2 linked regions of the Homo sapiens genome follow. Each later gene encodes a partner of the first gene's protein in a complex. Each region holds a gene or a part of one and is shown on either strand. Other genes may lie near its edges.

Region 1 (7,805 bases):
GAAGGTATTATCAATGTCAATCTCATCTTGTACACAAGAAAATTGAAACTTGCCCATGATAGGCAAAAAAGAGGCAGATCTATATATAATTCAAACTCTTAATGAATCACTACAAACTATCCATATTAAACAAAATATATATCTGTATTATATACAATACATACAACTCTATATTAACATAGTTGACTAAGCATATATTGGAACAGTTTCTAAATAAGTAATGATATTTAAATACTTAGGCTATTAAAAGTCCTCAAAATTCATAAATAGTTAAACTACAGTAGCTCTGGCAAGCATGTGTTGGTATATTTTGGGGTAATGGTCAATGCAGGGGCTGACTCTAGGCTACATTTATCTCCTGACCACTTAGAATTCAGAGCAGAATTCAGAAGGTCATCCTCAGATTTTTCTACACCAGTCAGGCACACCAAGGAGCCAAACAAGTAATTTAAGACCTTCATTAATTAGCATCTTGCATTTTGGTAAACGTCACTCTTTCTGAGAATTCCATTGAATAGAGCAGAGTGTCAATTTAACGAAGCCACAGTCATGTTCTATTTTTTTTTTCTTTTAGGCAGGGTCTTGCCCTGTTGTCTAGGCTGGAGTGCAGTGATGCAATCACAACTTACTGCAGCCTCGAGCTCCAGAGCTCAAGTGATCCTCTCGCCTCAGTCTGTAGGACTACAGGCACACGCCACTACCCCCAGCTAATTTTTTGTAGAGATGGGGTTTTGCCATGTTGCCCAAGCTGGTCACAAACTCCTGAGCTCACGCGATCCTCCCGCCTTGGCCTTCCAAAGTGCTGGGATTACAGAGCCGCCGTACCTGTCCCACAGTCATTTTCTTAAGGATAAATTGTTTCATCTTACTTTGTCCCACATTTATAGAAAGTAACATAGACAACCATCTTAGAAATATCAACAATTGAGCAAGCACTCTAAGAATGGCTAATAAACATGTAGAAACATGCTCAACTTTATTAATAATCAGGGAAATTCAAATTAAGATTATAACATCATTTTATAATTACTAAATTGGGGGAAAATTTTAAATCTGACAATATCAAATGAGAAACAATAAACATACAGCAGCTAGGCATGTAGTTTGTACAATCACATTGGAAAACAATCTCGTATTATCTAGAGTAAACTTGAAGATAAACATAACCCCTGTTTCAACAATTCAACTTTTAGGTATTTATCCTAAGCCTACTAATCAAAGTGTAGTTGGCTAACCAATAGCATTTGTATCACCTGGAGCTTGTTAGAAATGCAGAATGGCAGGTTTACCCACATTTACTGAATTAGAATCTGCTTGTTAACAAGATCCCCGGTTGCTATGAATGCTCATTAATGTCTGAGAAGCGCTGTGCTAAAGAAACCCTAGAACATGCACCAGGAGAAATGATCAAGAATGTTCATAACAGCACTGACGGTAATAGCAAATAACTAGAAATAGCACAAATATCCACTCAGTAGAGAATGGATAAATAAATCATGTCAGAAAAACTAGTTGCAGAAAGATACATACAGTTTAATACCATTTTTATGAGACTCAAAAACAAGCAAAAGTAAATAATATGTTACTAGGCATCCATCCATATATGTATATGTGGTCAATTCTAAAATAAACAAAGGAATGAAAAACACAATTCAAGATAACGCTTATGAAGGGGAGAGGTAAAGGAAGGAGCAGACAGTGATCTTCACTAACGGGAAAGATTCTATTTCTTTTTTTTTTAGTTTAAAATGTATTTTATTTTTAGACAACCTACATAATGTGTTTTTCCATAGGTTCTATTTCTTAAAGTTGAGTGATAGGTTCAAGGGTTTTTGTTATATTATCATGTGACATATGTATTTGTTTTGTATTGTTTTGAGATGGAATCTTGCTCTATTGCCCAGGCTGGAGTGCAATGGCACAATCTTGGCTCACCACAACCTTCGCCTCCCAGATTTAAGCAATTCTCCTGCCTCAGCCTCCCGAGTATCTGGGACTACAGGCGCATGCCACCATGCCTGGCTAATTTTTGTATTTTTAGTAGAGATGGGGTTTCACTATGTTGGCCAGGCTGGTCTCGAACTGCTGACCTCGTGATCTACCCGCCTTCGCCTCCCAATGTGCTGGGATTACAGGCATGAGCCACCACGTCCAGACTTATGTATTTGTTTTTATTCATATGTTCATTATTGTCTCATATAACACAGTTTTAACAGCTTTATTATGGTGTACTTTACATACCATAAAATTCACCTGTCTTAAGTGTATAATTCAAAGATTTTTAGTAAATGTACAGAATTATGCAATCATTGCCACAAAGTGGCAACAGAAAATTTTCATCACCACAAAAAAAATCTCTCTTGCCTCTGCAATCACTGCCCCTTCCACCTCTAGCCCCAGGCGAATTTGTTTTCTAATGCTAACCTTATTAATTAATAATACTAATATAATCTTATTATATAACTAATATAACTAAAACTAATCTGTTTTTCATCTCTATAAATCAACATTTTCTGGACATTTAATTTAAATGGAATAATGTAATATGTGATCTTTTGTGCTTGTATTCTTTTACTTAGCATAATATTTTTTTGACATTCATCCATGTCATAGCAATTATCGCTAATTCAGTCATTTTTAAGGATGAATAATATTTCAGAATATGGATGTACCACATTTTGTTTATTCACCTGTTAATGGACATCTGGGCTGTTTCTAGATTTTGGCTGTTATGCTGTTATGATTATTCCTATTCAAGTCTTTGTGTGAACACTGTTGTCATTTCTCTTATGTAGCTATCCAGGAGTGGAATTGGTGGGTCATAACTGGCCATTTTTAAATCTAAAAAAAGAGAAGAAATGGGGTCTTTGTTTCTTTCAAACTCGAATAAAAGAATTAACTAGGGAATAGATGGTGTATTTCTTTCCAGATGCTGGAATGAAAGATAAGGACACATATTATACTGAATATAGAAGCAAGAATCCATTGACATAAGAAGACGGTAAAGGAAAATAAACTAGTTATCTTCTGAGGAGCAGGTACAGTTAAAAACGAAATTAGGACAAAGAAAGTTGTATAGCAGCAGCTTGGAAGGGAGATGATTCACTTCAAAGGTACAACTGCCACTGCTTTTTATACAAACACATGCTTGTGGGATTATCAAATATATTAATAATGTCTATAAACATTTTTAAGGAAATGTAAAAACTTGAAATTCTTTTGACTACTCTAGATTTTCTGAGAAAGATAGCTATTTAGGCCGGACCCAGTGGCTCATGCCTGTAATCCTAGGACTTTGGGAGGCTGAAATGGGAAGATCGCAGTTTGAGACCAGGACTTTGAGACCAGCCTGGGCAACATAGAGAGATCCCATCTTGAACTTCTGAGCTCAAGCCATTTGCCTGCCTCAGCCTCCCAAAGTGCTGGAATTATGGGCAGGAGCCACCACGCCTGGCCCAAGAGACCCTATCTCTACCAAACAAACAAACAAACAAAAAAGATAATAAGATTTATTGTTTGCATTGATTTTTTGTGTGTAGATGTGTAATACATAAAATGGCAAATGAGGGGGAAAAGTGTTTGGGTCATATTAAACAATGAAGTTGTGAAATACCTGAGATTTTGTTTCATAACCACTAATCTTCAATGTTGAGCATTTAAAATGTATTTGTTCCAGTTTTTTTTCTCTGTAATTCCTTAGACATCTGTGCAGATTTTCATTCCCACGTAAGAAGCAATAACAGACTAATGTCATCCTGGACATTTCCAGGAATTGGTTTCCTAGTTGCTCTGAGGAAGATTGCCTTTTAAAAGAAAGCTCTGATCTGTTCTTTACCAGTTCCACTTGACCTGAATTTGACATTTCTTTAAGAGACAACTAAATCAAGATCATGTGTCTGTGACATGTATTGCATATGCTAGTTAGCTGCATCTGATAGCAGTCTGTAAAAAGAAAGATGATAACATGTTTATTTTAGACATTAGGTAATGTTCATCTTTCATGAAAAAAATTGATTAGCCAATTTTGGTAATCAAAAACATAAATGGGAGTAAAAAAGGCAGTCATTGGGAAGTACTGCTGTATGGACTTGTGAAACAACTAGTTGTCCAGAGCCTTGCTACAACGTATAGAAATATTCTATTTTCTGTATTTGGGGCGGCTACACTACAAGATGAAGACGGGGAAATGTTTTCCAACTCATCGCTCAGGTCCTACTGCAACATAACTTTCTTGAGGTAAGTACCTTTCTTTGTGTTTCCTTAACACTCTCTATTTTCCCCATCACATACACTAAAAAGATTATCTTTGGTGCATCTGTATTTACACAGCAGTGTTAAATTTGGGCTGCCCTCTGCCCCGCCTCCGTCCCCCAGGCTCTTTTCACTCCCCGCTGGGTCCCAGATCCTAGGGTTTAGCTCAGGCTCCGCCCTACTCCTTGGTTGGCTGTTGGGTGGGAGGCTCGTTTCTTCCCTCCCTATTGGTCGCCCAGGGGGAGGCGCGTTTCCCATCTCCTGATAGGCCGCGCCGAGGAGAGTCTCTCCAGTTTGCGGCACTGTTGTCATTTCCGGGGTAAGATGGCTGCAGTCCGTATGCTGAGAACCTGGAGCAGGAATGCGGGGAAGCTGGTAAGCACGTTTGGGCAGATCTGAGGCCGGGAAGGAGTGATTTGTCCGGAGTCATCCAGGAGTGGTGTTTTACTTTCTCCTCCGGTGCCAGGCGTCCAGGGCACGCGTGATGGAGAGGTGAAGGGATGCATGCAAAATAAAGGGCAGAGAACGGAGCGAGTCGACCAGTCTGGAGTGGAAACCCACTCCCTCCCCTTACCTGGAAGCGCTTCTGCAGCGACTCAGCCGTCCTGCTCCATCTGTACCCCGAGGCCCAGCTAGCGTTTTATTGAGCGCCTTCCAGGTGCCCAGGCATTGTGATAGGCGCTGTGGATCCAGAGATATATTCGTTTAGCATTTATTGCGTACCCACAGTATGCCAAACACTGGTAACACGACCCCTACCCTCAAGGAATCTACAGTGTGTAGAGGAAGAGGCCGTTCAAGTTATAGAATATCAGCAGGGGTCCCTGCTTCCGAAGAACTGAGCAGCTCGGCGTCACTCTTTTGCCTTGTACTTCTATGTCCGCACCACATATCATTCCTACCCTTTTGTCACCAAGGCTGTGACCCATCACCATCTCCCCTGCACTTCCTTCTCTTTCTCCCAGTCTTAGCACCAAGCACTGACACATACCGGTAATGATACTTGTTACCCCTATTTGCTTAGTGTTTCTTCTTCCTGCCTCTTCTCCCTTTCCCTAGATGCTCCTGCCTTGGTGACCCCGATCTTACAAAAACTTTCAAGAGCCTGCTATGTACCAGTGCTGTGTTAGGCACTGGAGATACAAATATGAAATAGACATCATATCTTCCTTCTCAAGAGATTACAACCTTGTGGTGGAGGACAAAGGAGAGGGAGACAGATAGAAATTACAACCCAGCATGAGAGGTACTGTGATGGGACAAGTGCCTAGAACTACAGGAACACACAGGAGTGGACACCTATGGTGGACTTGGGGGTCAGAGGAGTTCCCAGAGGATACTGTATGACTTGAGATGTAAGAAGGATAAGTAAGAGATAACCAGGAGAAGAGAGCTCTTCTCAGCAACACTTAACACATATTGGTCTCTCTTCTTTCTAGAGCTTTCCATTCTTGTTTTCTGTGACACCAGTTTCCCAATATTATTCTTTCTTCATCTTTGGCCACTTCATCCCAATATCCTGTTTCCCTTCCCGCCTTTTAAATATTGCTTTTTCTAAAGGGCTCTGACTTTGGCCCTCTGCACTTTTCCCACTTTCTGGGTTATCCCATCCACTCTTTGGCTTTAGTTACCATCTATGCTGATGAGTCCTAAAGTTCCCCAGTCTTCCAACCAGGTCTACTCCAAACCCATATATCCTACTGTCCTGGAAATCTCCAGTTTCATATGTACGTGATGTTTTCCAGCTGCAATTAAAAACCCAACCAATAAATAGGAAATTAAGTATCCATGCATACAGAGCATCCCCAATTAGATGTCAGCTCACATTAAGTGGCTTATGATTATCAATGTCGTCATTTCCCTAGTAGTTCATTTGTCCTTTTCCTACTGTATACAAGAGGGCTGCTACGACTTCTTCTTTTATGTTGAAGGCAGGAAGGTGGAAGAGGAGGAGGTTCCAGTCTCACTGGCCAGAACTGTGTTACATGGCCCCGGCTAGCACAAGGGAGCTTAGAAAAACTTGTCTTTTTTTTTTTTTTTTTTGAAATGGAGTCTCTCTCTGTCACCCAGGCTGGAGTACAGTGGTGCGATCTTGGCTCACTGCAACCCCTGCCTCCCAGTTTCAAGCGATTCTTTTGCCTCAGCCTCCCAAATATCTGGGACTACAGGCACACGCCACCATGCCCAGCTAATTTTTGTATTTTTAGTAGAGACGAGGTTTCACCATGATGGCCAGGCTGGTCTCAAACTCCTGACCTCAAGTGATCCGCCTGCCTTGGCCTCCCAAAGTGCTGGGATTACAGGATGAGCCACCATGCCCAGCAGAAAAGCTTGTCTTTAGTCTTCTCACAGTGTCTGCCGTAAAGCTTCAAAGCAGGTCAGACTCTCCAGCCTCTAGAACTGAACCCTCAAACCAGTTTCTCTTAATTTTTTTTTTTTTTTTTTTTGAGAAGAGTCTTGATCTGTTGCCCAGGCTGGAGTGCAGTGGTGCAATCTCGGCTTACTGCAACCTCCACCTCCTGGGTTCAAGTGATTTTCCTGCCTCAGCCTCCCAAGTAGCTGGCACTACAGGCGCGAACCACCATGCCTGGCTAATTTTTGTATTTTTAGTAGAGACGGGGTTTTGCCATGTTGGCCAGGCTGGTCTTGAATTCCTGACCTCAGGTGATCCTCCTGCCTTGGCCTCCCAAAGTGCTGGGATTACAGGCGTAAGCCACTGCCCCTGGCCCAGTTTCTCTTGATTTGAGCCTGTAATTCTCTCTGAAGAAATCTAGTCATGATTTTTCCACCCTGCCCTCAACTGGAGGTGTCTTGGCCCTTCTTAACTGGATTATATGCCTCCAGTGGTCTTGTAGTTTTTCCAACCCATTCTCCATAGTGTAGCCAGAGTGATCTTATAAAGTAAGAGACATTTGATAATATCATTTTCTTGTTTAAAACTGCCTTCAGCAAAATGTCCAAAATTCAAATGACTATGAGGCAATTTATGATCTGGACCTTTCCAGTCTCTTAGATCTCATTCCTTACCAAAACCTACCCATCCCAACCCCAACTCTGACACTTCCCCACCCTTATTCCACACTAAACTACACTAGAAGTCTGTTGAACAACTTGAGTTATTTGCACACACACTGTGCTTTCTGTCTCAACTCCAGACCTTTGCACATGTATTTCCTCTGCTTTAAAGACTCTTGCCTTACTCCACTGTGGCCTTATCTGCAACATACCTCATCCCCGGGGTTACACCTACTCATCCGTCAGGTCTTACTTCAACATAACTTTCTCCAGCTAGGTTCCCTTAACACACTCTATTTCCTTCATTATAGCACGTGTTATAATCACCGGTTTACTTGTCTTTACCTTTCACTGTACTGTGCATTCTATAAGGGAAGAAATTGCATCTGTTTTGTTCTCTGTATAATCCCAAGTGCCTGGCACATTGTAGGTGTGCATAAATATTTTTTAAATGACTCAGTAAAAAAAAAAGTCAGGTTTGTAAACTCTTCTAAAAAGTTGTAAGCAAAAACAGTTCTTACCCCCGTAGTAAATTATTA
Region 2 (7,488 bases), on another chromosome or scaffold:
TCAAAATACTTCAATATAATCCTATTAACTTTCTGTTTTAAATACTTAAAAAAATAAAATGCATATCCTTTATGGGAACTTCAAAAATATAAAAAAAGTACACAGGAGAAAATTCCATGACCCATAGCTTCCTTTTAGATCCTGCTAATCTTTAAAACATGCTTTTGATAAACCCATGAAGACTTTCATTCAGGATGTCAAGAAAGTCATCTCATCATTCTAAACAGTGTTAAAATAACCAATACAACCTTACTCAACGGACAAAATTAACTTTTTAAATGTAAACATATGAAATTGCTGCCCTGCTCAAAACCTTTGTTTCCCATCATACTTGGAGTATAATCCAAACTACTAGACCTGCCTTACAAGGCACTCCATGATCTGTCTCCTGCCTACCTCTCCGACTTTACATTGCATGGGTTTCTGCTCCAGTCATACCAGCCTTCTTATTACTCCTTAAACTTCACAAGCTAAGTCCCACCTCAGGCCTTTCTCAGTGTTGTTTCCCTCTGCCTGAAGTAACCTCACTCCCCCACTTCACTCAGGACCCTGCCCAGACATCATCTCCTCAGAAAGGCCTTTCCTGACACTGTATCTAAAATTATCTCTCTTCCTCCCTATTACCTGCTTTAATTTTCAGTTACTTCCCAAAATATTTATCCATTACTTATATATTGTTTGTCTTTTATCACCAAATTACAAGTTTCATAAGAGCAGGGTTTTTTTACCTTGTTCACCGCCTGGAACACACTAGCTCAATATACATTCAAACGAATAAATACATGAACAAATGAACTATAAGACACTTAACATAAGTTATTCCAATATTCACTTGCTTTTACATTGAAATAGAAAGGAACTGTCAGCTAATGTGATGAAAAAAATGTTTTACTTAAGTACTTACTCGGCTGATCTGCGTAAGTTCTCAGAGGCACTGCAGAAAGTCCCTGTAGGCCATGAGATATTCGATTGAAATGGCCTCTCTAGAAAAAGAAAATGTCCCTATTATGTAAGATATGAATTCAAAACATAGAACTACTGAAGGTTGATGATAACAGAACAATTTTGGGCAAACGTATCAAGCGAGGATTATTAGTGTATCTTCTTCCATTGCCACACAGAAGCTACAGATCAATATCCCCTCTTTGACAATAACTAATCATTTAAATTTTTCAGCCTCAGCTTGCCACACCCATCTTTTTATTATCAATAGTCAACAAATCATCTCATATTTAACTTAATTTTAAAAACGTATTCAATGGTATTTTTATTCAATTTTCAGAAAACATGGCTAATTATTAGTGCCAGGGATCATTTTAATGTCATAAAGCTCTGAGCCGGCCGTGGTGGCTCACGCCTGTAATGCCAACACTTTGGGAGGCTGAGGTGGGCGGATCACCTGAGGTCAGGAGTTCGAGACCAGCCTGGCCAACATAGTGAAGCCCCGACTCTACTAAAAATACAAGAAAATTAGCCGGGTGTAGTGGTGGGTGCCTGTAATCCCAGCTACTCGGGAGGCCAAGGCAGGAGAATCACTTGAACCCGGGAGGCGGAAGTTGCAGTCAGCTGAGATAGTGCCATTGCACTCTAGCCTGGATGTCAGAGTGAGACTCCGTCTCAAAATAAATAAATAAATAAATAAATAAATAAAGCTCTGAAAGTTCTAACTTAAATACTTGAATAATCTATACATGATAATCTTTTTACCTGTAATTTTTGTTTCCTAACTCTAAGCTAGCGTGTATATACAGTCCGTATTTACTTAGAACAATCTATGAAGATGTTCCTGAGACATCAACTAGGAATAGCAAATTAGACAAGGTAACTTAGGAAAATGCACCAAGTAATGTACTTACGTTCTGGTGCTACTACAGTTTGACAAATTGCATCATAATCTCCCTAATCTCTATATGTGGACGGCTACCATTTCCTAAGGGCAATGAGGCAGAAAGCAAGCAAGCAAATAACCCCTGCTCACAGCAGGAAAATGGGCGGCAGTGACAAAACCTACACTGATGTTTCCTATTCCAAGGCAACTCTTAACATTTGAGGTCAGGACAGCAAACCCAAAAAGCAGCAGATTGACAATCCTGAGTTTCAGTCCCACCTCCGCCGCTCCCTAAAAGCATGACTTGCAGAATGTTACATTAACTTTTGAGAACTCAGGTTCCTCATCTCTGAAACAAAAGGGTTTGATCGCTATATTATTTTTAAGGTCTCCACTAACATAGTACCCAGCCACGGTGCCACATACACACAATTTGGCTGTATCTGGTAAGCAGATTAAAAAGGAGAGTTGTTCTGATAACCTGCTGCAATTAAAGATTTAAGCCTCCAGGAAGTCGTGAGAGATGGCAATGAACACCAGTTGAAAGCTGCCAACACTGACAAGACCTTAGGGGAATTCCGAGGGCTATCTGTTGGAGCTGACTGGATCTAAACCATTCAAGAAGTGACCCCAGGGTTACCTGCCCACTGCATAAACTTAGGCCACTCAGGGATCAGAATTAGGATGAGAAAAAGGCAAATGGTATAAAAAGCCAGACTATACGGGACATGGGTGGCTTACACTTCCTCCAAGGTAGAGGCCTATGTGTGACCGGGATGGCCCTCGGCCCAGGCTTGGGGGTGTGGCATGTGTGACCGCCGGCCGTCACACAACCCGAAAGGACTCGCCACAGCCTGGGCCCAGCCCCGTCCCTCGCCTGCTGCAGGATGAGCGGCCACCTCGGAGCCCAGGGCCGGGCTGAGCCAGTGCAGAGGCGGGGCCAGGGGTGGTGCGGCCCAGGCGCCCGCCTCCGCCAGCCCAACACGGTTAAGCCGCGTACCGGACCCACTGAGCGGGACCTTCCGTGCCTCTGGCTCAACACGACCTCACCTACTCGGCCCTCACCTTGGCCAAGGAGCAGTACACACGACTCCAGCTCTGCATTTTTCCGCTGTATTTTCCTTTCCGCCAATACTTTCACCTCCGCTGGGCGCCTCCGCCGCTCCGCCAAGGTCTCCCCTCCCTGCGCATGCACAGGCGCAGCCTACGTCATCACCCGGGAGCAGCGCGATTGGCCCGCGCGGTTCTACCGCACGAGGCGTTCCTGTCAGGCTCGGCGTCGTACGCTGTCGTAAGGAGCGCAGGGCTTTGTCGCAGCGGGGGTGGTGGTGGGAATGCTTTAGGGGCTGGTGCCAAAATGTCGAGCTACAATGTATTCTTATACTTAGAAGATGAAATAAACAAATAAAACTAGCGTTTGCTTAATGCACATTATCGACAGTAAAGCGTGACAAGTTCAACAAGCTCTTGGTTGTGCTAGGCATTCCTCGGCACTTCCTACAGACATCTCATTTCATCCTTGCAACAACCATATGGAGTATTATTAGTATTTCCATTTCTTGGATGAGACCCAGAGAGGTTAAACAGTGCCCCCAAGGTCTCACAAAGGAGAGATAACTGCGGCCCTGAGGCCAAAACCTTTGGTATTATCTACTGCTTTATACTCGCTCCTCTCAAATGCCATATAAGGGATGGGGCTACAGATTTTGGCATCACCAGCATTCTGCTCTAATTAGCTAACTGACAATACGTAGAGAACACACTTTCTTCTATTTCTTTAGTTGAGAAACACATCTCCCTGGTAAAAAGAGAGTGGGATGGTGGATGAGATTTTAGGTTTTGAGAGAGAATCTGTTGAAAAGGGTTGAAAAACATTGTCTTCAAGATTGAGCACGAAAGTCTAAGGTCTCATTCTTGCCTTGCAATAAGTCTATATAGTGTGAATAAACTTAATTCTACATTTATTGGAAGTCTACCACCCAGGCCTTGTGCTGGGCTAAACACTGGTTAGAAATTACTGCCTATGTTCAGATTTAGATATGAATAATTAAATTTAGTGTTTGTTATAGAGACGGTATTGCTGGCAGCTCTGTCCTGTGACAGGGTCCCAGGCTCCTTTTATCTCGTGACTCTGCCATCATCAGAGCTTGCCTTGCATCTTTCATTCAAGATGGCTGCTCCAGTTTCTACAATCATATCCCCTCATTCCATCTGATTACAAAGCCACACCTAGCTGCAAGGGGATCTGTGAAACATAGTCCTGTCAGCTGAGTGCCTAACTGAAATTGTATTAATAAGCAAGATGAGATGAAGCGAAATTGGGGGACATTGAGCAGCCTCCACCACACAGATGGGGAGAATTGTCTCCTCTCCAGCTTCATGGCAGTCTTTGACATCTGGTCTAGGAGTTACTGCTCCATATGCACAAAATCTCACAATTCTTTCCTGAACTTTCTTGGGCTTTGTTCCCTACTCCTTTGTCCAAAATTACAATATCATATTTTTATTTTTAAAAAATGAAACACTTCCATCCTTTCCAGCTGTCATTCACAAAGCCTAGGGGCTCAACCCAGTATGAGAAGTGAGGCAGGAAATAGATTCCTTACTGCACTCACCATATTTCTCCACATTCCTCCTCATCTCTTGTACCAACTATACCTCTTCTCCTCTCAGCTAGAACAAAAGCCACAACGCATATAAATTAATGCGAACACACGGGAGGTGGAGGGAGCGATGTCAACAATGGACAGCCCACACTAGCAGTGTTTATATTCCAGCTAAGGAATATAACCAGAAATTGGACCACACTTATTTTGCTAACTTGATTTTTTTCACTTAAAACTATCTCATGAGCAACTTTCCATATTCATATTGTGTCCAGAATTGGTGGGTTCTTGGTCTCACTGACTTCAAGAATGAAGCTGCGGACCCTCGCAGTGAGTGTTACAGTTCTTAAAGGCGGCGTGTCCGGAGTTTGTTCCTTCTGACGTTTGGATGTGTTCGGACTTTCTTCCTTCTGGTGGGTTCGTGGTCTCGCTAGATCAGGAGTGAAGCTGCAGACCTTTGCGGTGAGCGTTACAGCTCTTAAGGCAGCGCGTCTGGAGTTGTTCATTCCTCCTGGTGGGTTTGTGGTCTCACTGGCTTCAGGAGTGAAGCTGCAAACCTTCGCTGTGTTACAGCTCATAAAGGCAGTGTGGACCCAAAGAGTGAGCAGCAGCAAGATTTATTGCAAAGAGTGAAAGAACAAAGCTTCCACGCTGTGGAACGGGACCCAAGCGGGTTGCCACTGCTGGCTCAGGCAGCCTGCTTTTATTATCTGGCCCCACCCACATTCTGCTGATTGGTCCATTTTACAGAGAGCTGATTGGTCTGTTTTACAGAGAGCTGATTGGTCCATTTTGACAGGGTGCTGATTGGTGCGTTTACAATGGCTGAGCTAGACACAAAAGTTCTCCAAGTCCCCGCTAGATTAGCTAGATACAGAGTGTCGATTGGTGTATTTTCAAACTCTGAGCTAGACACAGAGTGCTGATTGGTGCATTTACAAACCTTGAGCTAGATACAGAGTGACGATTGGTGCATTCACAATCCCTTAGCTAGACGTAAAGATTCTCCAATTCCCCACCAGATTAGCTAGACACAGAGTGCTAATTGGTGCATTTACAAACCTTGAGCTAGACACAGAGTGCCGATTGGTGCATTCACAATCCCTTAGCTAGACATAAAGATTCTCCAAGTCCCCACCAGATTAGCTAGATAAAGAGTGCCGATTGGTGCATCCACAAACCCTGAGCTACACACAGGGTGCTGATTGGTGTGTTTACAAACCTTGAGCTAGATACAGAGTGCCGATTGGTGTATTCACAATCCCTTAGCTAGACATAAAGATTCCCCAAGTCCCCGCCACATTAGCTAGATACAGAGTGCCAATTGGTGCATCCACAAACCCTGAGCTAGACACAGGGTGCTGATTGGTGTGTTCACAAGCCTTGAGCAAGACACAGAGTGCTGATTGGTGCACTCACAATCCCTTAGCTAGACACAAAGGTTCTCCAAGTCCCCACTAGACTCAGGAGCCCAGCTGGCTTCACCCAGTGGATCCTGCGCTGGGGCGGCAGGCGGAGCTGCCCGCCAGTCCCGCTGTGTGCCCGCACTCCTCAGCCCTTGGGCGCCAGTGGGCCAGCACTGCTGGGGGACCTGGCGCACCCTCTGCAGCTGCTGGCCTGGGTGCTAAGCCCCTCACTGCCCGGGGCAAGTGGGGCCGGCCAGCCGCTGCGAGTGCAGGGCCCACCAAGCCCACGCCCACCCGGAACTCTAGCTGGCCCGCAAGCGCTGCACGAAGCCCCAGTTCCCACCCGCGCCTCTCCCTCCACACCTCCCCGCAAGCAGAGGGAGCCGGCTCCAGCCTTGGCCAGCCCAGAAAGGGACTCCCACAGTGCAGCAGCAGGCTGAAGGGCTCCTCAAGCGTGGCCAGAGTGGGCACCAAGGCCGAGGGGGCGCCGAGAGGGAGCCAGGGCTGCAAGGGCTGCCAGCACGCTGTCACCTCTCAATATTAGCCTACTTCTAATGACTACTGAGTATTTTGGGACATACCCTAATTTATTCAACTATATTTTATTATTAGATATGTAAGCCATTACCAATTTTTCAATATCGTGATTAGCTTATCACTAAGTCTTTGCACACATTCTTTATCATTTCCTTGCAGTAAATTCCCAGAAGTGGAATTGCTAGGTCAAAGACAAAGCATATTTTAAAGATTTATATTGTCTCTCACTTATTTTATTTTATTTTATTTTTTGACGGAACCTTGCTCTGTCACCAAGCTGGAGTGCAGTGGCTCGATCTCAGCTCACTGCAACCTCTGCCTCCCAGGTTCAAGTGATTCACCTGCCTCAGCCTCCCAAGTAGCTGGGATTACAGGTGCCCGCCACCACGCCTGGCTAATTTTTGTATTTTAGTAGAGACAGGGTTTCACCATGTTGGCCAGGATGGTCTCCATCTCCTGACCTCGTGATCCACCCGCCTCGGCCTCCGAAAGTGCTGGGATTACAGGTGTGAGCCACCGCACCCAGCCCACTTATTTTAATTCTTAACAGTGGTTACCTTAAATGAATCAGAAGTTCTAACTGGCAGTTTAAGGGGTTCATTAAACCCCTTAATTTAAGTGGGTTAATGGAGATGAGTTATTCATTATACATGCAATAAGTCAGGCAATCAAAATATTTGAAAAGCATGGTTTTTCAAAACACTTCTTTTGCTGGTTTAAGAAAAAGGAAATATTAAATACAATAGGCTACATTTCATCGAGTTTTTTGGTACAGTTGATAATATAATGACAAGAGCATGAGTTTTGGAGTTGAAAAGGTTTATGAATTCTTGCTCCTCAATGTAATAAATAAATGTGGAAACTTGTAAACATTTCTTAACTTTTCTAATCTTCACTTTCTTTAAAGGTAACACAAGGTGCTAGCTCCCACACGACAGGTTGTTGTAATTATTCAGTAGATGATATATGTACAAGGTCTAGCCCATGGTAAGCATTTAACCAACATCAGTTCCTTTCTCAAGCCCTTTCCTCCTCATATCAAACTATATCTTAATTCCTTGTTGAGCCAGTGTAACAGACTCAGTAAGTCTTAGAAGAAAATGTACCTTCA

Evidence for each region. The genes of interacting proteins can lie anywhere in the genome.
Region 2: the proteins of DBT (region 1) and DLD are in contact, whole or in part, in a crystal structure (PDB 3RNM), measured with the Homo sapiens proteins. Residues at the interface, in NP_001909.4 of Homo sapiens: Thr174, Pro175, Ala176, Lys196, Arg199, Leu201, Lys202, Glu203, Leu206; in NP_000099.2 of Homo sapiens: Ser446, Thr447, Asp448, Arg449, Glu472, Tyr473, Gly474, Ser476, Glu478, Asp479, Arg482.

Annotation. Positions count from the first base shown.
Region 1 is NC_000001.11:100,246,591-100,254,395, reverse strand, and holds the start of DBT (lipoamide acyltransferase component of branched-chain alpha-keto acid dehydrogenase complex, mitochondrial isoform 1 precursor), read left to right. Parts: upstream 1-4,561; 5' UTR 4,562-4,575; coding exon 4,576-4,626; intron 4,627-5,310; exon of another isoform or gene 5,311-5,497; intron 5,498-7,805. UniProt on the Homo sapiens protein: The branched-chain alpha-keto dehydrogenase complex catalyzes the overall conversion of alpha-keto acids to acyl-CoA and CO(2).
Region 2 is NC_000007.14:107,886,695-107,894,182, reverse strand, and holds the start of DLD (dihydrolipoyl dehydrogenase, mitochondrial isoform 1 precursor), read right to left. Parts: upstream 3,001-7,488; 5' UTR 2,933-3,000; coding exon 2,894-2,932; intron 984-2,893; coding exon 905-983; intron 1-904. UniProt on the Homo sapiens protein: Lipoamide dehydrogenase is a component of the glycine cleavage system as well as an E3 component of three alpha-ketoacid dehydrogenase complexes (pyruvate-, alpha-ketoglutarate-, and branched-chain amino acid-dehydrogenase complex).